Regions from separate parts of the Homo sapiens genome. Here all the other regions are linked to region 1. The links come from fine-mapping of genetic effects on gene expression. A gene starts in region 1. Each other region holds a variant in brackets. All regions are shown on one strand. Distances are between the middles of the regions.

Region 1 (5,500 bases):
GGTCGGTGTGACCCAGCCCAGGGCTCCCAAGCTGCTGGCCTGGTCCCCACAGAGCCTGAGCAGCTCCCAGCTCGGCAGTGCCTGTCCCTTCCCTGCCATCCTGGTGGTGCCTGGGGCTCAAGGAGGATCAGCTGAGGACATGTGCCTTGAGTGGTGGGCAGGAGGCACCTCGCCTCTTGCGCCAGGCTCGCTTTCCTGTTGGTTTCTTTTCTATTTATTTATTTGTTTATTTTATTTATTTATTTTATATATATATATTTTTATTATACTTTAAGTTCTAGGGTACATGTGCACAACGTGCAGGTTAGTTACATATGTATACATGTGCCACGTTGGTGTGCTGCACCCATTAACTCGTCATTTACATTAGGTATATCTCCTAATGCTATCCCTCCTCCCTCCCCCCACCCCACAACAGGCCCCAGTGTGTGATGTTCCCCTTCCTGTGTCCAAGTGTTCTCATTGTTCAGTTCCCACCTATGAGTGAGAACATGCGGTGTTTGGTTTTTTGTCCTTGCGATAGTTTGCTGAGAATGATGGTTTCCAGCTTCATCCATGTCCCTACAAAGGACATGAACTCATCTTTTTTTATGGGCCGCGTAGTATTCCATGGTGTATATGTGCCATATTTTCTTAATCCAGTCTATCAGTGTTGGACATTTGGGTTGGTTCCAAGTCTTTGCTATTGTGAATAGTGCTGCAATAAACATACGTGTGCATGTGTCTGTATAGCAGCATGATTTATAGTCCTTTGGGTATATACCCAGTAATGGGATGGCTGGGTCAAATGGTATTTCTAGTTCTAGATCCCTGAGGAATCGCCACACTGACTTCCACAATGGTGGAACTAGTTTACACTCCCACCATCCTTTTGGTTTCTTTTCTTTCCTCTGCAGCTACCAAGATGAATGAACTAATGGAGAAATAGAAAGTCTTCAGTGATGGCCTACGCCAAAGCACAGGATGGGGCGGGCAGGAAGCCCTCTCCCAAGATCGAGTTGGCCGAGGATGGATGATTGTGGCAGCAGAAGCCGTTGCAGCCCCACGTTGTGCTCTAGGCAGGGACCTTTGGCCCCTTTGGGGAGGGAGAGACAGACGGGCGGTTTGACTTGGACACAAAGAAAGCCTTGGTTTCTAAGCAGTTGCCTCCAGCCTGCTTTCTGCTTCCTCAGCTCTATGTCTCTCTCCTTCCCCTTGTCCTGAGCTGCTCAGGTGGCCCAGGTCTGGGCAGGCTGGCGGCGGCCCTCCTGTCATCTTGGCGGGCCTGGGCTGCGTCCTCTTCCTGTGGCTCCACTCCTCCCTGCTGCTGCCAGCCACTTGAAAGCAGAGAACCCACTGTCGCCTCCCCCGGCTGGCCTTAGGGTCCTGTGCGAGACGCACCCCTCAGCCGCCCTCCTTGAGTGCCCCTGGATCCCCCGCGGGGTACCAGTTTCCTGCTCCTCCCTGGCTGGGCGCTCAGCTCTGGGCTGGGGAATTCAGCCTGACTGGTTGTCCAGGAAGATGCTGTCTGGGCTTCCCAGGGTGACCCAGTATCTCCCTGAGCAGTGTGCCTGTCACAGCTGCCTCCCTCCCTGTGAGTACCGGAACAGGCGTGACTGGTAGGGCCTCTGCCTCCTTGGGGCCATTGTACCTGCTGCTGCCCGCCCCACCCTGCTCCCTCCTGGCACCATCTCCTTTGCTTCCCCAAGGTCCCTGTGGGCACACAAGGCAAGGAGGCCAGGAGGAGCCAGGTGCCAGACCCCCCTCCATCCCAGTCGCCTGAGGCATCCCCCAGCCACCACTGTGAGAGGTGGGAGGCCGGGCAGGCCTGTGGTCACCATGGTGCAGGTGCACCACCTGATTTATAGGCCAAGGGACTCCTCTTGGTCACCTCTCTGTGCCCCCAGCATGGGGCTGGCCCTGCAGTGCACCCACCATCAAGGGCTGTTGTCTCTTGCTCCAGAATGAGGTCTTCAGGGCGCCACTGCTCGCAGGACCGGGAAGGACCTGGTGCCCTTTGCCTGGAGCGGGATAGACAGGGCAGGTCCCTGAGCCTGGGGTCCGAGGGGCTGGGCTTCACTCCTCCTGTAGTCCCGGCGCTCCTGGCCCACCCCCTAACGTTGCTTATCTGTGGTGGAGGAAGCATTAGCTCAGCTGCGGCCTGCACAGCTCCCGGGCCAGGCCCACCTCCCTTCCTTCCCCAGCAGCCACTGTTAGGTGCACGGTAGACATGATGAAGCGACGTCCTTAAAGCAGATAGCATCTCCCGAGGCTGCCCCATCCCTAGGTTTTGGGGGAGCACCCCTTCCCCTTTGGAGGCTGAGCACGGCATGTGTGGGCACCTTGGTCACACTCCAGAGCTCGCTTCATCCCCACGAGCGGCACCTGATCTCCAGTGACGGGGAGACTGAGGCCTGGCAAAGAGGACCTGTTGCCTTTGTGTAACTGGCCCCAGCATGGGGGAGGCATTGGCCCCAGCATGGGGGAGGCATTGACCCCAGGCCTGCCAGGCCTGGCAGCCACAGCCTGGCTAGGTGGAGGTTACTGCCTTCCGCACCACTCTGGCTTCCTCCCCGTGCCTGTGAAGAGCTCGGGGCCTGCTTCCTAATTTGTAAACACGGGGCGTGTGTCTCAGTGGCTGTGAGCTAGCGAGGGGGTGGCGAGCGAGCCGGCTGCGCAGGTCCTGAGGCCCCAGGCCTCATTGTTGGCCAACAGGCAGCTGGGGGCGGGCTGCGGCCGCTGATTAAAGGCCGCCTAGAGCAGCCTGTGTGGCGACAGGTGCCCAGAAGCCCAGGAAGCCGGTCAGTGCCCGCCCCAGGTAAGCTGGTGTGGTGGGGTTGGCAAGGACAGTCTCCCCGGGAGCCTGGGGGCAAGCAGGCAGAGGCCAGCTCGGGACCAGCACCTGTGTGCCAGGGACAAGGGTGGGGAGGTCGAGCCCAGCGGGAGCTGGGTGCACTGCATGGGCTCTTTCGGGTGGCTGCTTGCCTGCTTCCCGGCAGCTGGTTCCAGGGCTGGAGACCCAGTGTGCTATGCCCCAGGTTCCCAGCCAAGGCATTCCGGTGAAGGGGCTGGACCCCGCCAAGGTGCGGTCCCTGAGCTGCCTCTGCCTCTCCCAATCCCTGCTGGGGACTGTGGCTGGAGGCAGGCAGTAGAGCGCTCTGAGGCCTGCCTTTTCTGTTCAGTAGGTGACAGGAGTGGGGCTGACGCTCCCAGAGCCAAAGGTCACAGGTGCTGTGGTCGGGGGTGGCAGGAAGTGAGCCCCAGAAGGGTCAGAGCTTTGGCTAGGGGGAGGATGGTACACAGCAGGGCCCGGGCGAACCCCTCTCTCCAGTCCTCAGGGTTTGTGCCTCTCGCTCGGACAGTTTGAGGACTTGCTATCCCCGTGGGAACATCACCATGTCCGAGGCACCCCGGGCCGAGACCTTTGTCTTCCTGGACCTGGAAGCCACTGGGCTCCCCAGTGTGGAGCCCGAGATTGCCGAGCTGTCCCTCTTTGCTGTCCACCGCTCCTCCCTGGAGAACCCGGAGCACGACGAGTCTGGTGCCCTAGTATTGCCCCGGGTCCTGGACAAGCTCACGCTGTGCATGTGCCCGGAGCGCCCCTTCACTGCCAAGGCCAGCGAGATCACCGGCCTGAGCAGTGAGGGCCTGGCGCGATGCCGGAAGGCTGGCTTTGATGGCGCCGTGGTGCGGACGCTGCAGGCCTTCCTGAGCCGCCAGGCAGGGCCCATCTGCCTTGTGGCCCACAATGGCTTTGATTATGATTTCCCCCTGCTGTGTGCCGAGCTGCGGCGCCTGGGTGCCCGCCTGCCCCGGGACACTGTCTGCCTGGACACGCTGCCGGCCCTGCGGGGCCTGGACCGCGCCCACAGCCACGGCACCCGGGCCCGGGGCCGCCAGGGTTACAGCCTCGGCAGCCTCTTCCACCGCTACTTCCGGGCAGAGCCAAGCGCAGCCCACTCAGCCGAGGGCGACGTGCACACCCTGCTCCTGATCTTCCTGCACCGCGCCGCAGAGCTGCTCGCCTGGGCCGATGAGCAGGCCCGTGGGTGGGCCCACATCGAGCCCATGTACTTGCCGCCTGATGACCCCAGCCTGGAGGCCTGAGCACCAGGGCCACCTCCTGTGCCATGGACAGTGCCAGCCTCCACCGTTCAGCTGGCCTCTACCACCCCCGGCTCCTCCTATCTGGGCAGCCTCAGGTCCGTGCACCTGCCAGGCCTTCCCTGGCTGCCTGACCAGCCATACGGCCCTGGATTCCTCTCCAGGCCCCGCTTCCAGGGCCGTGCTCTCCCGGCTGGCCTGGGTGCCCAGCAGAGTTTGCTGTTTCCCAATAAACATTGCCAACTACTCACCCTCCGACTAGCTGGCCAGATACTAGGGGCTGGACTCCCTCGACCCCCTGCTGAGCAGGGCCAGGCGGTGAGCCATGCCAGGGGCCAGCACAAGACCTCCAGGGCCGCCCCCCTATGGCCTCTCCTCGCGGTGAGGACCGTGGGTGGCTGGGTAGGGAGACGTCAAGCTCTTGGGTTGGTCTGAGGGCTGATGGGTTGTGGCTGTGGGCTGATTGCCGCCCATCTGCATTGTCACCCCAGAGGCCCAAAGAAGCCATGAGTAGGGCCTTAAGCCCACAGAGCCGGCCGCCTGCCTGGGCACAAAGCTCAGCTGCAGCGCTTGCCCGCCGTGGGACCTGGAGTCTCTGTCCCTGCTCTGTGAAGTGGTAACAGGGTGAAATGTTAAGAAACGGGGTGCTGGGGAAAAGGGAGGTGCCCCCACATGTGGGCATGCACATGTACATGTACATGCTAAGGGCCCTGACGGTGCACGGAGCAGAGGTGGGGTGGCTGGTGCTGTGAGGGTGACCCTGGAAGGGAGCCTATCCTGCAGCCCGTGTCCCCGTAGGGCCAGGAGGCCGCTCGGTGGGAGGGCAGCTTCTGGCCACCGCACTGTGCTTTGGGTTCCCTGCTAACCTGCCTCAGGGGCCCCACCCTGAGGCACTTCCAGTCTTGGGAGGCCTCATGGGTGGGGAGAGACCTGTCACCAACGCTGGGTCAGGTAAGAAGGGATGGGGTGGCCACGCCTGAGAGTGACTCACATGAGCAAAGCCTGAGCCTCCAGCCAGCTGGACAATCTGGGAAGCCCTAAGTAGGTCAGAATGACTGGAGCCACTGCAGCGTGCACGGTGGTAGGATGGTGAGGCCAGAGCACAGGCAGTGACCACCTCAGACCTTCCTTGTGGCCCGGGCCAGGCCTGACCCTGATGGCAGCGGGGAGCCGCGGAGGGTCATGAGCAGGAGAGGGGAAAAGTCTGGTGTAGGCTTCTGCCATATGCTGCTTGGGCTGCGTGCCGAGCTGTTCTCGAGTTGCTGTGAAGAAATACTTGAGGCTGGGTCATTTACAAAGACAGCGGGTTTATTTTGGCTCAGCAGTGCTGGCATCTGTTAACTGGTGGGGCCTCAGGAAGCTTCCACTTATGGCAGAAGGCAAAGGGGGAGCAAGAGAGAGGCGGGGAGGTGAACTC
Region 2 (5,500 bases), 24 kb before region 1:
TTCCTTTGATTCGCGGTGTCTTTGGGGGATTGGGGGGTCCCTGGTTGATTCCCGCTGCACCGTGGGGTCTGCCCTTAAGGTCATATGAAGAGCAGGGCCCGGATGCTCTGAGGACTTTTTCAATACCCTCCACAGGTCAGGGAGGCTGCCCACTTGGTGAGCTCAACTGTTTGGCCATATATCTCTGGGCCCACCACACAAACTGAGAGGTCTCGAATGCCACCAGCACCCGCCAGCCCATCTCTGGCACAGCGGGGCCAGTGCCGTGAACCAGTCTCATTTTCCAACGTGTTTTCCAAGCACTGACACGGCTGAGGCCCTGCTGGGACGCATGGCCAACTTTCCTCCATGACCAGGACCCCCCAGCTTCCCCGCCACATCCACAGCTTCCCCCCAACATCCCTCCTCCAGGTCAATGGGTCCTTCAGCCACATTTTTGGCTCCTGACCCACCCAGGCCTCCCTCAGAGAACCTGGGGTCTCTGGGTTGGAATGTCCCTTAGAGATGTGCCCCCTCCCTCCCCCATGGTAGGACTCAACCCTCCACATCCCCGCCCACCCACCTCCCTGGGCTTGTAGACCTTCTAGGACCGGGAGCTCCCTTCCTCTCCTGGCAGCCAGCTGGTGTTCAGACAGTGATTTCTGGGAGGAGTGCTTTCTTGGACTGAGCTTGAGTCCACATTTCCAGAAGCTTCTACCTCTGGGCCCCTTCTTTCCCCCTTCCTGAGAGGCCCAGCAGCCTCTCTGTTCCCTCCCCAGCCTCCAGCTTTTCCGGAGGAAGATGCCTGGGAGGTGCTATGATTCTGGGGGCGGGTGGTGGGTGGCAGGTGGTGGGTGGTGGGTGGTGGGTGGTGGGGTGGCGTGGGCAGGGAAGCTGCAGCCTGCTGCTGGGTCTTCAGCGACCATCTCCAGGGGCTGAGGGCTGGCCAACAGGTTCTCCATGAGGGGGATGGCCTCCATAACCTCTCAAGATGATCTTCGCCTCTCAAGGCCCTGCCAGTTCCTCAGGGTCCCATAGACTGAACTGCTGAGGTTGGGGAGGCCTGTTGAGCACACTGGCTCCGTGGAGCTGGGTGGAGGAGGGAGATTTTCTTCCAGAGTACACAGGAGCTGGTTTCTTCCCGGTCCTCAGGAGCAGAGAATATGGGGAGGGTTGGGGGAGGCTGCCACACTGCCGTGGTTTCTTCCGCCAAATTCCCCAGTCCTAGGAAAGATCCACAGAAAAACCCACAAGAATTTGAATGTCTGAGCTGGGGCTGTGATTGAGATGAAATTTTCTAAAAAGAAAGAAAGAAAAACAAAAACAAAAAAGAGGGAAAAAAACGCTTAAAAAAAAATCCCAAAGCCTTTGACAGCCCTCAGCTACCAGAAGGGCCTGAGGCAGCAGCCACGTGGAAGGGTAGAGAGCAACCTTGAGGCACTTCGCTGGGCCTGTGTCGGGGCCTCCCAGGCTGAGGTCCCTTCCTGTGACCCCCGGACTCCTGCCCGCTCCCTCCTCCCAGGACGGAGTGAAGTCCCCTCCTGTCACTTGGATGACTGCAGTTGCCTCCCAGCAGGTCCCTGGGTCTCCCTGACTATAGACTTGCCCCCTGATCCCACCCTCCAGGAGATGGCAGGGTAGGGCACAGAGGAGGGCACAGTGGCAGCTGCCTGCTGCTGTCTCCTGGCTACTGGGCACAAGCCACCCTCCAACTCCTTCCTGCCTTGCCCAATCAGCAGGTCCCTGGGTAAGGGGCATTCAGTGAACTGGGGGCTTTGCAGGTCTGGGGGAGGAGCGACTGACATATTTCATTGCAGACGCATTGAGTTTGAGGGTCCTGAGGGATGTAGAAAAATTTGTTAAGTAGACAGGATAGGAAGGAGCCACAGGTAGCCCCAGGAGCCGTGAGGGGAGCAGGGCCCAGCATGTATTACAATAGTGAGCATTTACGTGGTTCTTCGCATGCGCCGGGCACTGTTCTAGGGATTCCACAGGAATTATTACCGCCTGCCATCCTCATTAGCAACCCAGTGGGTAAGGTGCTCTCATTAGCTCCATTAGGTGAGGGCAAAGAGGCACAGAGAGGTTAGGTAACTGGTTCAAAGGCACACAGCTGGTGAGTGACAAGAAATTTCCTTCTAACTACAGCGTGAGCATGGTGAAGAGAAGACGGAGCCCCGCGCTGGGAGAGGAACGCTTCAGTCCGAGTTCCATTCTGCACCCAAGGCTCCCCTTGGTCCTCCTGGGAACCAGGGTGCCCCTTAGTGGTGGTGGCCCAGGAGAACCCGACCAAGGCAGGAGCGCCCCCTCCTGGAAGAGCCTCGCTTCAACGCATCATCATTCCCGGCCGGCAGCAGGGGCGACGCCAGCAAGGCCTGCGACTCAGAGCCAGCTTGGCCCGTTCGCCCCGCCCCTTCCCGGTGTCCGCCCCGCCCCTTTCCCGGTGTCCGCCCCGCCTCCTTCCCGGTGTCCGCCCCGCCCCCTTCCCTGTGTCCGCCCCGCCCCCTTCCCTGTGTCCGCCCTGCCCGCTTCACTGTGGTCCTGCCTCTGGGTGGTGCCGGGGCGGGGGGTGGGAGCCCGGGGCCCGCGCAGGCGGAGATGTCGCCCAATGGGAAGGGTCGGTCGGGAAGGGGGTGGGCGCAGGCGGGTGGGCGGGAAGAACGCTGGAGGTTGATTGGCGGTCTTGCCGGCCAGTGAAGCCAGGGCATGGGCGGGGCGCGGCTCGGAGCGCGAAACATGGCGGGGCAGGACGCTGGCTGCGGCCGTGGCGGCGACGACTACTCAGAGGACGA[G/A]GGCGACAGCAGCGTGTCCAGGGCGGCTGTGGAGGTGTTCGGGAAGCTGAAGGTGCTGTTGGCCCAGAAAGCCACTCCAGGGCGGGGGACCGGGGAGGGCCCCGCCCGAGGCCCGGGAGGGCTTGCTGCGGAAGTCCGCGGCGCCACGCGGCCACCGTCGCCGGTTCCGGCTGCGCCCTGTTCCCTTGCAGCAGGGGGTGCTTGTGGATCATTCATCTTTGCCCTTTGGTGTGCCCCAGGCCTTCGTTCTTGCTGTCTCCACGGCCCGTGCCTGGTAGTTGGGGCCAGCACCGCCTGTGGAACTGCAGTACCCGCGCTGGGCGCTCGGAGCAAGTGCAGACACAGAGGACCCAGGCCTGGCCTTAGGGATCTTGCGGGGTCTGGGGGGACAGATGGGCAGAGCCTCGTGCCACTCTGTCAAGTCAGCGAGACTAGGGCTTGGTGTCAGTTGGTGTCAGATGCCAGGGGTGATAGCCTCCAGAAGCCCTCTACAGCCCCACAGGACAGAGCCCTCACTGCAGCAGTGAGGAAAGCTGGCCCACGAGGTTAGGGAGCTGTCCCAGGTCCCCTCGGCCCGCTCGCTCCTCCCCCCAGACACTCCCCCATCCTGTCCGCGACTGGCTCAGTGGTCCCTCTCCCTTTCCCTCTCCCCTTTCCCTCAGTCCCGAAACCTAGGACTCTCTCTTAAGTCTTAGTCTCAGGCGTTGCTCCTAGGTCCTGCTGCCACAAGAGCCCAGAGTGGGAGTACTTGAAAGAGGTGGGGTCTGCATGCCGCGGGAGATGTGGGGTTAAGAATGGGGGGACTTGAACTCTTGGCAAGATGGCAGGACGCGGGTAAAGGAAAGGGTCCTGGGAGCTTGCAGATGTACACTGAGGACTGGGCGCGGCGGCCCACGCCTGTAATCCCACCACTTTGGGAGGCTGAGGTGGGCAGATACCTGAGGTCAGGAGTTTGACACCAGCCTGGCCAACATGGTGAAACTCCGTCTCTATTAAAAATACAAAAATTGTCCGGGCGTGGTGGCGCATGCCTGTAATCCCCCAGCTACCCTGGGAGCTGAGGCAGGAGAATTGCTGGAACCCAGGAGGTGGAGGCTGCAGTGAGCCGAGATCATGCCACTGCACTCCATCCAGGCTGGGCGACAGAGTGAGACTCCGTCTCAAAAATAAATAAATAAATAAAATGAAATGATGTACACTGGGACTTTCAGTGAATGTTGCTTTCCTTTTCCTTGCTTAGGACCTAAACTGCCCCTTCCTCGAGGGTCTGTATATCACAGAGCCAAAGACAATTCAGGAACTGCTGTGCAGCCCCTCAGAGTACCGCTTGGAGATCCTAGAGTGGATGTGTACCCGGTAATGCATCAGTTTCTTCCTCTTCCCACCTGGGGTGTGCATGGGCGCCAGCCAGCCCCACCTGGGGAAGATGGGGTTTGTGGTTACTGTGAGTAGCTGTCTTCCCAGAGGGCTCCACCCCCTAGCCTGGACCCTCGTGAGAACAGCTGTGTAGGTAAGGAGTACTGGTGACAGGCATGATCAAACTTGGGGCAAAGTGGCCCCTGGCGGTGCTGGGCTAGTCCAGCCACCCCTTTGCTGCAGTGCTGAACTTGCCCTCAGCGTTTGCCTTGCCTTATGAGTTTGGAGGTTCAGGACTGGCAGGCACCTGAGAAATGCTCCATTCCAGTCCTTTCCTTCTCAGACCCGGAAGCCAAGGGTCAGGCTGGAGGCATGAACAGTCTCTGGTCTCCCAGTGGAGGAGTGACAGGCAGGGCCAGGGCGTGGGCTCCTGGCTGGGTCTCAGCTGGCCAAGTGGTCCTCATGCAGTGTCACCTCTTGTCAGCTTCTGTGCCGTGACCCGTTTCCCAGTCCTCTGGTGCCTTTGGGCCAGGGTGTAGCATGGTGTGTGCCTGGCACCCTATGAAGCCCATGGTGACAGGGTGACTTCCTGAGTGATGGTGGAGGAAATGATCCAGAGTGTCCCATTCCCAGGGCAGACATCCTTCCCCTGGTGACGTAGTCCCTGAGCTGAGGGTCTGTCTCACTGCCTCACAGCTGTGAGTGGAGAAGGCTTTCCCCGCCTCCCACAGAGCACAGGCTCCTGTGGGATTGGGTGTGTGCCCAGGCCATGCTCAGGAACAGCTGTAGTCTGTTGGTACAGGAGCCTCTCGTGAGTCCAGGCCCGGGCCTCCCCCTCCTCAGCCTGCGGCCTGCCTACCCTTGCTGCTTGAGGAAGGGGCCTGGGCGGGAGCCTGGCAGTAGAGCAGTGGGGAGCCAACCTGCATCCAGCCGGTCTGGCCCGCCAGGACCAGAGACATCAGCAGGACGCCCAGCTGGATACAGGCCCCCAGAGGAAGGAGGAGGCGTTTTTGTGTTTGAGCCCTTGCTGTTCCAGAGGCGTCTCCTGCCTCTGCCTTCTAGGCCCTTCCTCAGGCCTCTCCCCAGGGCTCAGCACAGCAGCTCCTCGCTTCATAACCTTTTGCTCTTGCTCACATTGTTCCCCCTCCTGGAAATGGCCTTCTAGTCTCTGCATGTCGTACGTCCTCCTGTACAGCCCGCAAAGACCCAACTCACACGTCCTGTCTCCTTTTAAAATGTTTCCTGTTCCCAGGGCAGAATGTATTCCGCTTCCCTCTGGATGCCCACAGCCTTTGAGCACACCCTGCCCCTGCTGGAGCCCTCAACCTGTGGGTGCACTCTTGGCCTGCTGTCATTTCCGGCTCTTTAGTATG
Region 3 (5,500 bases), 49 kb before region 1:
AGCCTCAGAGATGAGCCTCATGGGAATGGGCAGCACCTTCACCAGGCCTGCCAGGGAGCCGGGACCTGACCCTGCCCCTTGGGCTGGCTGGGATCAGAGCTGCGCAGGTGGGAAGCTGGGAGTGGGAGGGTTCTGCAGTCCTCGGAAGAGCCAAGGCTGGTGGCCCCTCCATAGCCACCCCAGAGGCTGCTCTGACCTAGAGCCATGACGGGGCAGGGGAAGAAGGCAAACAGCGAAACAGCGAAGGGGGCAGCTGGGATGGTTCCCAGGAGTCTAGAGTCCCAGAAGGGGCTTCTGGCTGTGGGATTCAAGTGGTGGAGGGGATCTTCTGGCCTGGAAGGGGACCTGGGGAAGGAGGAATGAAGCACAGGCCCCACCCCTCCAGAGGAGGTGGCCCCAGGCCTTCCCCAGGGAACCCTGGGAAGCTGGTTCTTTCTGGAAGGCTGCAGAAGGGCCTGGCCATGGGTCCTGGAGGCCACTTAGGCTAGGCGGGCCTCAGGCCAGGAGGACTGAGCCATGCGCCCTCCCCACAGCGCAGCCCCTCTGCACACACCCCACAGCTGGTCCCTCTAAGACTTGCGGAAAGGGCTCTGAGTGGCCGAGCTGTGGCCCCTGATCTCCCAACCCAGCATCTGAGCAGAAGAGGACAGGAGCTGGGGCACTGATCGCCCCAGGCCCGGTCGGCAGGGTGGGGGCCAGGGCCGGCAGGATCCCGGGTTGCGCTGCCTTCCGAGGGAGCCGGTGCCCACCCAGCGGCCTGCAGCCCAAGGCAGGGTGCCCTGGGAAAGCCACCGCCACCCCCAGCCCCTCGGTGTGAGCAAGACCCCCAGCTGGTGGGTCCCCACCCACCAGTGGGGCTCCCAGGCCTGTCGGGGGCTCGGTGGTGGGCCTGGATGCTAGGGGGGCAACGTGCGGCAGGGACCAAGCTCTCCGGCCCACAGATGAGTGGGAGGGGGTCGTGGTGGGCATGGGAAGACATTTCCGACAAGCAGGGGTGTTGGGGGGTGAGCAAGGCAGGGGAGGGGCCCTGGCAGGTGGGGTGCCAGGGACCCCAGGGCTGGGGCTAGGCCTGTGGGTGGGGCGTGTGCTGGGGATTCTGTGGGCCGAGGACATGTGACTCCCGGGCAGGCTGGAGATGCTGGGGGGTGGGGGGTGGGGGGTGGGCCCGGGAAGCACAGGAGACGGCAGGTGGGGAGGTCCTCATCCCACCTCTATACGGGGTGGCAAGGACTCAGAAGCCCTTGCTGAAGGCTCTGAGTGCTAACTGTCAAGTGTGAACTCATTACAAACCCCTCCTCTGGGGACTTGGCGCTGTCACTGGAAGGGACACGCTATAGCTTTGTTTGAGTGACTCTGGAATGTTGCTAAAGACAGGAAACTCATTCTTGCCTTGGAAACACCCCCCTTCCTTTCCCAGACTCCCCATCTATGCGTTGGTAGGGTTAATGCCCACTGCCGTACGGGTCCTTGGGGCTTGAAGGTGGGCCAGGGAGGCCAGGGCTGCCACCCACAGCTGGCCAGCTTGCCATGGGAGCCCTCTCTGCTCCCTGGCTCGCAACCTGCTCCCACCGCCCAGCCCTGGTGGCTTGGAGGCAGCCCTGCATCTTCCTTTCAATATACCCACACGGGCTTGCCCTCAAAGGCTCACCATGCTGGCCCACAGTGGCCATACATGGGCATGCTCCGCACCAAGACATCCATGCTCATACACCAGCTCTCCTGGGGTGCGGCTGGCACCGGCGGCTGGGTGTCACCAGGAGGTGCTCACCCGCACCCCTGGGCGCTGGTCCCCGGGAGCCTTTCTGGCACGGGGGCAGGGGGGCTGAGCATCTCCAGCTTGTCTCAGTTCCAATTAGTTGCTATAGGGCAGAGAGCTGGCAGGCCAGGGAGGGGCGAGGGCCCAGAAACAGGACCCCCTGAGGATGGGACCTGAGCAGTCTGGCAGCCAGGACAGCAGGAGAGAGGCCTGCCCACCAAGACAGACCACTGGAGACTGATGTACCCTGTGCCCTGCAGATCCCTGGGCCCCCTGCTCTGCTCAGCAGGCGCTCAGGCACCCAGCCCCGCCCATGGAGCAGTGAGGGGGCGCTCCCCTCCGTGGGCCTTCCAGGGCACTCTCTCGCTCCCTCTCCTGGGTCCCTTGGCAGGCCCCTCTGGGACCCCAAGCCAGGTCCGCCCTGGGGAGCATGGCACAGTTGCCTGATTTTCTCTCCTTCCCCTCCACACCCATTCTGAGTCCCAGTCCAAGGGGGTCCTGGAAACAGACAGGGCTGAGCCACCCAGGCACCCCCAGTCAGGGCCCTTGCAGCCAGGGCTCCCAGGACCCAGACTTCTCACAGAGGATGTAGAGGCAGAGCATTAACCTGGGGGTGAGCGAGCGAGGAACATCTGGGCAGGGTGCCTGGGGTGTGCCTGGGAAACTAAGTCTTTCAGCCCATGCCAAGGACTGGCCTCAGGCAGTGCAGCGGAGGACTGCTCCTGGGTGCTGAGCTCGGTGGGCGCTGGGCGGTCCTCCCCGATCCGACCCAACCCGGGCCAGGCGCCAAGCCCTGGAGCAAGGAGGCGCCTGGGCAGAGCGAGGCTGAGGGAGTGGAGCATGCGCCTGGGACTTGCAATGATGAAACAGGGCCATTGGCAAAGCTGGGGTACCAGTCACCCAGCCACGCTCTAGGGTGGTAGCCAAGAAGACGGACCCCGAG[C/T]GGGAGGCAGAGAGACAAGAGGTGGATGAAGCAGAGCAAGGTCAGAAGGGAGAGGGAGAGGAAGGGGTGAGGGAAAGGTGCCTGGAGGGCGGCGAGACGAGGCAGAAGCCTGACAGGGACCAAGGGGGCCGCAGGGTGGCGATGAAGGGGCGTGGATCAGCAGCCTACAGAGAGCACCGGGGAAATCTGTGGACACCCTCGCGGCACTGGGGACAGCAGGACCAGGGCTTGGGACAGCGGAGGCAGCAGAGCCAGGGGCATCTCTGGGTTGCTGAGGAGGCAGCTTGAAGCCAGCCCTACCTGGAGAGGGGAGGCGCCAGGCGCAGGCTGACTAGTTGGCGGGCTGGGGTGGTGGGCCGTCCGCACGTCTATCTGTCCGGTGTGTCCGGCGGACCGAAAGCAGCTACTCACTCCTGGGCAGTTTGTGGAGAGAGGGAGACAGAGGCGGCGGGCGGGAGGCTAAAGGCTGGGCAGGCGGGCCGACGGGGAGGGGACAGCGGGGAGAGGGCGGGGAGGGAGGAAAGGAGGGAGGGGGCTGGTGGGGCGGAGAGGGCGGGCGAGCAGGAGGGGGCAGGCTTCCCGGCCCCCCTGGCAGCTTCAAAGGGAGCAATTTTCTTGTAGACGGCTGGACTAGCTGAGCCCCCGCCCCCTCGCCCCCACCACCTCCCCCCCCCTCCCCCGCCTGGGGCAGACAGCAAAGGAACGGACACACTCGCACTCACTCAAACAAGGACCCAGAGAGTCAAACTTTCCACTGCCCAGATGGGGACACTGAGGTGCTGGCTGGCATCTCGCCAGGCAGAGGAAAGAGAGATGGAAGAAAGACGAGGGGGAGGCGGCCTTGGGCTGCTAGGCCCATGAGTGGCCCCTGGAATTTGGTCCTGAGCCTGCCAGGAACCTGCTTGGGCCTAAGCAAGGAGGTGGTTTCTCCAGGATCAGAGAGGTAGCTGTTGTGGATTTCTGGAAGGACTTCATGTAGGCTCCTGGCGCCCTGTGCCCTCCCTTCCACTCCAGACTTTCTTCCCTTAAAAAGAGGGCCCGATCCGGCTGGTGGTGGCAGGACGGGGCAGGGGGCTCCCCAGCTTGCCTGCCCTGAACTGATTCAGAGACGAAGGATCCAGCGAGTCAGTCTTCTTGCTCAATCCCTGCAGGTCCCCTCGGACATGAGAACCACTCTGTGGGTGGCCACTTCCTCTGGGCTCAGCCCTGTGCTGGTCACTTACGGGGGCTAACCGGGTTACCCCACCAAGACTCAGCCGCTTCCTGAGGGCCCAAATGAGTCCAGTTCCTCCAGTGGCTAGAGCCCAGGTCCTTAGTACGACACTGCCCCCCTGTCCCGTAGTGTCCCCTTCTTCCCTCAGCAAGAGCAGCTCCTGAGACACAGGGGTAAGAGTTTAGATGGAGTGAGAAACAGATCTGCAATAGAACTGGGGGCCAAGAGTGCGGAAGACCAAAAGAGAAAATTGCATATTGAGAGAAAAAGCTCGAAGGGGCAGAGAGGGAGAGAGGGGTGGCTAGAGAGAGGCGGCATCCAATGGAGAGAGGACAACGTCGAGGGCTGAGGGTCTTCAACCCCTGGCAGTGCCATCACTCAACCGGGGGGTGGGGTCTGGGAGGTCCCAGGCCAGGGAGGATGCTCCCAGGGGAGCTCTACCTGGGGGCATGGCAGGGCACAGACCCCCTTCCTGTTCACCAGCGGCAGCCCAGGGCCTGGCTAGGACCTGGGACGCATGGCACCTTGACCAAACTGTGGTACCTGCCTGCAAGAAGCTTCTAGACTGGGCCAGGGAGAAGAGAGACGTGGGAAACCAGGGGCCAGGCTGGTAACCCTGGTTCTCTCTTGATTTCATGGTTGGAATGAGGAGATTGGAGACCACATATGCCCTTTCCAGACAAAGGAGATGGCTTGTCTTTCGGCAGGTTTGTGTGTTTTACCTTTTGCCCAGCCTCAGCGTCCGACTCTTGGCAGCCTGGTCTCATCTCTGTCCCACCCTCTTTCCCTCCCCCACTGCCAACTCATTCGTGGAGAAATATGTCGGTAGAGAGCGGGACAGGCAGCGAAGCCTGACTAGCAGTCTGGGTGGAGAGAGAAGCATTTGGAAACATTCCGCTCAGTGACAGCAGCCAGTCGCAAAAGGCCGCAGAGCCTCTGGTTCCATTCATTTGAAATGTCCACACTAGGCTCATCTGTGGGGACAGAAAGCGGATTTGTGGGCAGTGGGTGCTAGAGGGGTGGTACCTAAAGGTATGGGTTTTCTTTTTGAGGTGATGAAAATGTTCTACAATCGACTGAGTGATGGTTGCACAGTTCTGTGAATAGACCATATAAAAGCCCTTGCCTTGTACGTGCTCAATGCGCAAATCGTGTGGTAAGCACAGCCACTCTCAGTAAAGCCGTTTCAGAAAAAAGGAGAAACCCACTCAAGGCATGCCTGCTGCCCGAGGTGCTGGTACCCAGTACCTTCCTGCACTGCTTGGGGACTGAGAACCCAGGAGCTGTCACTCAGGGCCTCAGCCTCCAGGAGTCCCAGTGGGGGTGAAACAGCTCTGAATACCGTGGGGGCGCAGGGCCATGCACAGTGCCAGAGGCTCGGGAGGGCTACCTGGAGGAGGTGACCTGGAGCAGACCAGTAGGGAAGAGGGAAGTTGCCGGTGGAAGGAAGAGCACACGTGCGGGGGGGTGTGGGGAGACACAGGGGAGCCAGGCGGCGCTGCAGTCCGGCCCTGCACCGACCTCACCCTCAGGTCTCAGCCAGGCATGTTCCTGGATGGGGGCTTGGAAGTGGCGATGAGGCGACACC
Region 4 (5,500 bases), 130 kb before region 1:
CGAGTGTGCGTGTGCGCATGTGCTGAGACAAGTTCTTGTTAGAGGGACGTCTCCACGCTGTGGAGCGGGCTCCCGGGACTGGAGGAAAACACTGAAGAGGTAGCTGACTTGGTGACATGCGTGGTCAGGTAGATGCCGCTGTCTATGGCGTTGTTGTTCTGGTTGGGGGACGGGGGCGGGGGGGCCCGGAGGCGCTCCTCGTTCTCGTCCACGTCCGTGTCGTCAATGAGCGGGATGTTGTGGGTGTAGTCATTGATCAGAAACTCGGGCGTGGCCATGAAGTTGTGAATGGAGGTCTTGGATTCTGGTTTCTCCAGGCCTTCATAGAGCGAGCTACGGAACGCTTTCACCACCCGGATCTGGAGTGGGAGGTGGAGGGACAGGGCGCGAGGTGGGAGCAGGGAGGGAGGAAAGGAAGGGAAAGGAAAGGAAACGTGGAAGGAAGGTAGGAAGGAAGGAAGGAGACAGTCAGTGGCCGGCTGGTGCTGGTAAATTCCACCCACGTCAATGGCTGGGGGTCATGGCATGAGAAATGTCCACCCATTTGTTGGAGGGCTGCTACGGAATGGGATGGCTCTGCCTGCCTTTGGAAAGAGTTTTCAGGTGTGGGCCTTGGTCTCGTCAACCGATCCGCATGCAGGAAAAGATGGCAGTGTCTTTCTCTAGGCTGAGCTGGGCAGGTATTCTGGAACTTGAGAGTGCTGCACTAGGCTCTTGGCTGTGACCCCGCAGTTCCCTGTCCTGGGGAGACGAGTGGCTTTGGTGACCTCTGGGGTCTCTGCCCAATCTGAATTCCAATTTGGTAGAAAAGAAAGATGATTTGAAAAGGAGAGAATGCTGGTGAGTGGGATGTCTTCTCGATCTTACCAGAAAGTCCGAAGTACCTGCTGGTATGAGCAAGTTCCCAGCCTATGGGCACTGCCGGCCTTTCTCGCATGGGTCTCCCTCCATCCCCCAGCTCCCATGGCTGGAGCCGGGACCTGCCATGTCGAGGGTCTCCCTGCGGCTAACTCCACTGGCCACTTCTGCATCTTCGTCTGATTTGATCCCTCAGGGCACTCAACACAGAAGATCATCCCTCTTTCTGGAAGCTTCTCATGGCTTCCTGACATTGCCCCTGCCTGGCCCTCTTCCACCTCACCAGCTGCCCTGGCCCCATCTCCTCCACTGCCCTCTCTTCTGTCCCTGGGTGCCCCAGAGCTCTGGCCTGGCTCTGTCCCTCCTCCTCTCTGTCCATACCTCTCCACCCTGGCCACAGTGCTGGGGCCCATCTGGCTATAACCAGAAACTGTGGCCCAGGCCTGTACTCAGAGCTCCAGGCCAGAGAGCCCAGCAGTCCCCAGCTGGAGGTATCTGAGACCGAAAATGGCCACACTTTTGATTTGCACCCACTAAAGCCTGTCTCTGCTCAGATGCCCCTGTGGCCTCCTCACAGCCCCCGTGTCTGACTGGGTCTGGTTCAATCTGGTGCCCCTGCTCTTCTGACCTCACTCCGCCTGTCCTCTCTCCCGTCTCCTCCTCCATCTTCCAGTCAGACATTCCAAAACTTGCGTCTCTGCTGCCTCCCGGGCTCCGCTCTGTGTTGTTCCCTGGCCATCCCTCCCCACAGGAGTTTGCAGACCTCAGATCAGCGGAACTTCCCGCATGAAAGAGCTCCCGCTGTGCCCCAGACTCCCCCGGCACAGTGGCCCTCTGCCCCCAGCTGAGCGCACGGCAGCCCTTAAGCCCCCTGACCCTCCGGCAGGGCACTGCTCCAGGAGCGAGCCCTTCCCTCCTCTGGCTTCTCCACCTTGCCTCACGCACTCAAGTCCTTGCTGCCTCTCTTTGCTCCCTGGCCCCTCAGCCTGGGCCCCCTCCTGCTTCTAGAAGCCAGGAGTTGATGGGGAGGCCTCTGCCTGGCCTCGCACAGGCCAGTGTCAGCACAGCCGCCAATGGTAGCTGGCCCACCTTGTACTGCCATCCCTATAGGGGGCAGCAGACGGAGCGCTGAGCTGCCAGGCAGACCCTGGGGTTCATCCAACACCTGTCCACCCCTGCCTATGTGAGCAGGTGGACACATTAGGAGTTCTGAAGCATTTCTGGGGCCAAGGTTCGACCTAGGATTTGGTTTTCTGGGTTTAGACAAGGTGTCAGGGCTTGCTGAGGGGCTAACCCCAGCTCTCTGCTAGTTTTGGTTAATAAAATTTTACTGGTTTAAGTTTCATGCTGTAAGGGCACAGTTGTGTCACGGCAGCAGAGACCAGGCCTGGAAAGCTAAAAATATTTCCTCTCTGGCTCTGTCGTTTAGACAATTAATCACCTTTTTTCGGTGACTTTCTTTCAGCCCTCCAGGGGCTCAGCTAGGCAAAGCACAGTGCTTCGGAATCAGCTGAAATGATGCCAACCTCATCACCTCTCCAGTGCAAAAAGTGAGCCAGGGCCAGGTTTGGTGGTCCACGGCTGTAATTCCAGCACTTTGGGAGGCCGAGGCGGGCTGATCGCTTGAGCTCAGGTGTTCGAGACCAACCTGGGCAACAGAGTGATACTCCCCGTTCCTATTTAAAATAATAATAAAAAAAAGTAAGCCAAAAAGCTCCACATTGGAATTTTCTAGCACCCCATCTGAAATCTGGTTCGGATTTTCTCTGCATTCGGGAAAGCCACATCTGCCAGACGGCAGATGGTCAG[C/T]TATTCTCACTCAGGCCTTTATCCCCAGACTGGTTTCTGAATTAGGGGTAACACAGAAATTGAGAATAATTTGACGTTTTTAATGAAAAGAAACAGAATTCAGTTTTCGTAGCCAATGCAGATGTTGCCTCATTATTTAGGCCTTTTCTGGTACAGGATTGTGGTGTGGAAGCCGCCTGGGACATCGCCTGCTAAAGCTGTTGCCCATCAAGTCACAAAAAGGACAAAGTGCTGCAGGCCTTGACCCCAGGGCTGTGTGGGGTGAGATCTCGCTGAGCTGGTGGCCTCATTCAGACCTGGGGGCATGTGATCAGGCCAGGCCCCTGCTCAAACCTATGCACAGGTCTCACTGCACCTGGCTCAACTCCAAAGACCTCCATAAAGGACAGCCAGGCCACGGAGCCAGCCCTTCCTTCCAGGCTGGGCTTCTGCTGCTACTGCTCCTCCGGTCTCACCGGCTACTCCAGCGTGCCCCTCCCGGATGGCATCTGCCTTGTTTGTGGCTTAACAACAGAGCCTGGCCCAGAGCAGCTGCTCAGCAGACACTTGGGGAATGCACAAGTGACTGAGTGAACCGCTGCAGGATGGAAGGGCTGCCCCCCAACATTCTGCTGTTTGGGGGTGCTAAGCTTGGCTGGAGTCCTGGTGAGTCTGTTACAGCTGACAGTGAGTCAGCTTTCTCCAGGCTCTATTTTCCCTGCATCCTAATCCTGGGCCATTAAACAATGTTTTGGTGTTGGTGTTAAGGTGGGGTGTTTTCAGCCCACCCAACACTGAAGGATGCAGTCGATTCCTGGGAGATTGGTTCAATGGAAAGCAACAAACGTTTCTAAGAGAGGCCCATCCCAGAGGGCTGCACTCCTACCTGGGTGCTCAAGGATGCCCTCCTTCCACCAGCCTGGGTTCACTCTGTCCTCATCTCAGGCTCCTGCACCGCCTCCTGCTCTGCTCTCAGCCCAGGACGCGCCACGCCCCCTACTGCTCCCAAAGGAATCTCATGGCCCCCAGGGCTGTCAATGCTGTCTATAGACCATCAGGCCACCGTAAATACTGCAGATACCAGCTGCACCATGTCCACCTTTTCCTGGACTGCCAGACTTCTGCCCTGGCTGCCTCCCGGGTGTTCCCCCTCGGATGCCTAAGGGACCTCTCAAATTGCAGGAGGCCCGAGGAGGACTCTTATCAGTGCTCCAGCTGAACTCTGCCCACCAGCAGCCTTCCCATCCCAGTGCAGGGCTCTGGCCAAACCTCAGAGGCACTTTGACCCCCTGACCCTATGTACCAGACATCCACGTGTCCTGTGGGCCCTACCCTAACTCAAAAGCATCTTCCACATCTGAGCCTCTCCTCACCTCCATTGCTGCTGCTATGTCCTGCCTGGGGCCCTGGGGTCACATTGGGACCCCAACCCCCACCAGCAAAGCCCTCCATCCTTCCTGTCCCTTCTCTAGGTGGAGTTTCCGAGCTCTCTCTGGCTGCCAAGTCAGACTCTTGGTCCCCCATCTGGCTCTAAACCTTCCAGTAGGCGATGGAACTGGCCCGTGTCCTGACTGTGTGGAAATTCATTGAACTGTACCCCCAAAAGCCCGTTTTACTGTGACAATTTAAAAAGAAAGGAAATGAAAGCACTCTTCCGGGAGAGATGCCCCTAGGAGGGTCAGGTTGGGCTGGAGGACTCCCCATCTCATCCGGGTGAGGCGAGGTGGCTCCCCACTGTGTGTCCCCACCTCCTTGTGTCCTCCTGCTGTCTCCCTCTGCCACACTTCTCCGTTCCCCATCATGGCTGATGGCCCTGAGAGGCCACAGTCCTTTACTCCTCACAGTCCCCCAGCGCTGTCCGACACTGCTCCAGCCCCTCCTCCTCTCCCATCCCTGACACCCGAGGGCCCCTCCTCTGGGTCTAGGTACTCTCTTCTGGCTCTCGGCCTTCCATTCCACCTGTCGGCTAACAGCCTCTCGGCTCCGGCTCCAGACTTGGGCATCTAAGCTGGGTCTCAAACTTAGCAGGCCCAACCCCCCCGGCCCCAGCCCCGTGGCTCCCTTCAAACGCCATCCAGAACCTGCACTTCGCCCCCACCCCTCCATGCCCTTAGCACGGCGGCCCGAAAACCAGAGCGTGTCTTGGTCTCCCCCGCTACAAGCCCTCCACTGGCTGTGGCCCTCGGAGCCGGCCCCAGTCTTTCTCACTCTGCCCTCTTTTACCCCTCAGCCTCCGGCACATCCCACCTGGGGACCTTTGCTGTGGCTGCACCCCACACCAGGAAGGCTCCCCTCACTCTTGTCTTCCCCAGCAGCATGGTGCCCACTTCTGCTCCTTCCTTCAAGTGCCCCCTACATCCATCCACCTTTCACTGGAAGGTAATCCCCCTGGGGCAGGGGTCTGTCTGTCTGGCTCGCTGCACCCAGCAGGGGCTCAGTGGACGGGGCTGAATGTCTGGGGCCCACACGGCTTTGCACCAGCCTCCTGTGCTGGCTTCGGCCCTCCCCATAGCTCTTTGCCCACTTTGCAATGCCCAGCCGGCTGGAGCTGTTTCTGAACACCCCACGCAGGGGCTCCCCGGAGCCATGACCCCTGCCCTTTCTGCTGCCTGGCTGGCCTTTCTCCTTCCTCTGAACTTAGCTCAAGTACGCATCCTTAGAGAGGCTGTCCCGGGCAGTTTGTTACCAGCTGCCCAGAGGAGACATGCTGAGTGCTGTGGGCTTGGCCCGGGCTCCCGACTTGCGTGGATGAGCAGTTCTGAGCCTTACACAGGGCGGGTGACGCTGCAGACTGACAAGGCCCATCCCTGGCCACACTGAGCCAAAGCGGAAGGGGTGCAGGTGTGGAGTGCCA

Alleles and levels. Alleles are on the strand shown, and positions count from the first base shown. SD is a standard deviation of normalised expression in the study named. Not every link is listed here.
As copies of T replace C in region 4, the expression in sun-exposed skin of the gene that starts at base 2,750 in region 1 goes up (small effect, 0.20 SD a copy in GTEx).

The links.
Region 2: its variant is fine-mapped to the expression of TREX2 in whole blood (TOPMed, PIP above 0.99).
Region 3: its variant is fine-mapped to the expression of TREX2 in fibroblasts (GTEx, PIP above 0.99). The same link has a PIP of 0.9 or more in visceral fat.
Region 4: its variant is fine-mapped to the expression of TREX2 in sun-exposed skin (GTEx, PIP 0.96).

What each region holds. Positions count from the first base shown.
Region 1 is chrX:153,443,306-153,448,805 of GRCh38, reverse strand. TREX2 (three prime repair exonuclease 2) reads left to right here and starts at 2,750. Exons shown (of 2, transcript NM_080701.4): 1 at 2,750-2,797; 2 at 3,311-4,333. The coding sequence starts at 3,376. The coding sequence ends at 4,086. HAUS7 (HAUS augmin like complex subunit 7) reads left to right here. Exons shown (of 10, transcript NM_001385482.1): 10 at 897-1,138. The coding sequence ends at 928.
Region 2 is chrX:153,467,773-153,473,272 of GRCh38, reverse strand. HAUS7 (HAUS augmin like complex subunit 7) reads left to right here and starts at 2,697. Exons shown (of 10, transcript NM_001385482.1): 1 at 2,697-2,823; 2 at 4,012-4,127. The coding sequence starts at 2,716. RefSeq lists enhancers at 2,168-2,462, 2,976-3,075, 3,226-3,405 and a silencer at 2,336-2,645. The variant G/A (reference allele first, on the strand shown) is at 2,772.
Region 3 is chrX:153,492,613-153,498,112 of GRCh38, reverse strand. It overlaps BGN (biglycan), which reads right to left and starts at 3,133. Exons shown (of 8, transcript NM_001711.6): 1 at 3,000-3,133. It also overlaps a transcript of HAUS7 not described here. The variant C/T (reference allele first, on the strand shown) is at 2,700.
Region 4 is chrX:153,574,837-153,580,336 of GRCh38, reverse strand. It overlaps ATP2B3 (ATPase plasma membrane Ca2+ transporting 3), which reads right to left. Exons shown (of 22, transcript NM_001001344.3): 22 at 1-359. The coding sequence ends at 39. Among named protein-coding and RNA genes, the nearest start is that of CCNQ, 22 kb to the left of the region's middle. The variant C/T (reference allele first, on the strand shown) is at 2,668.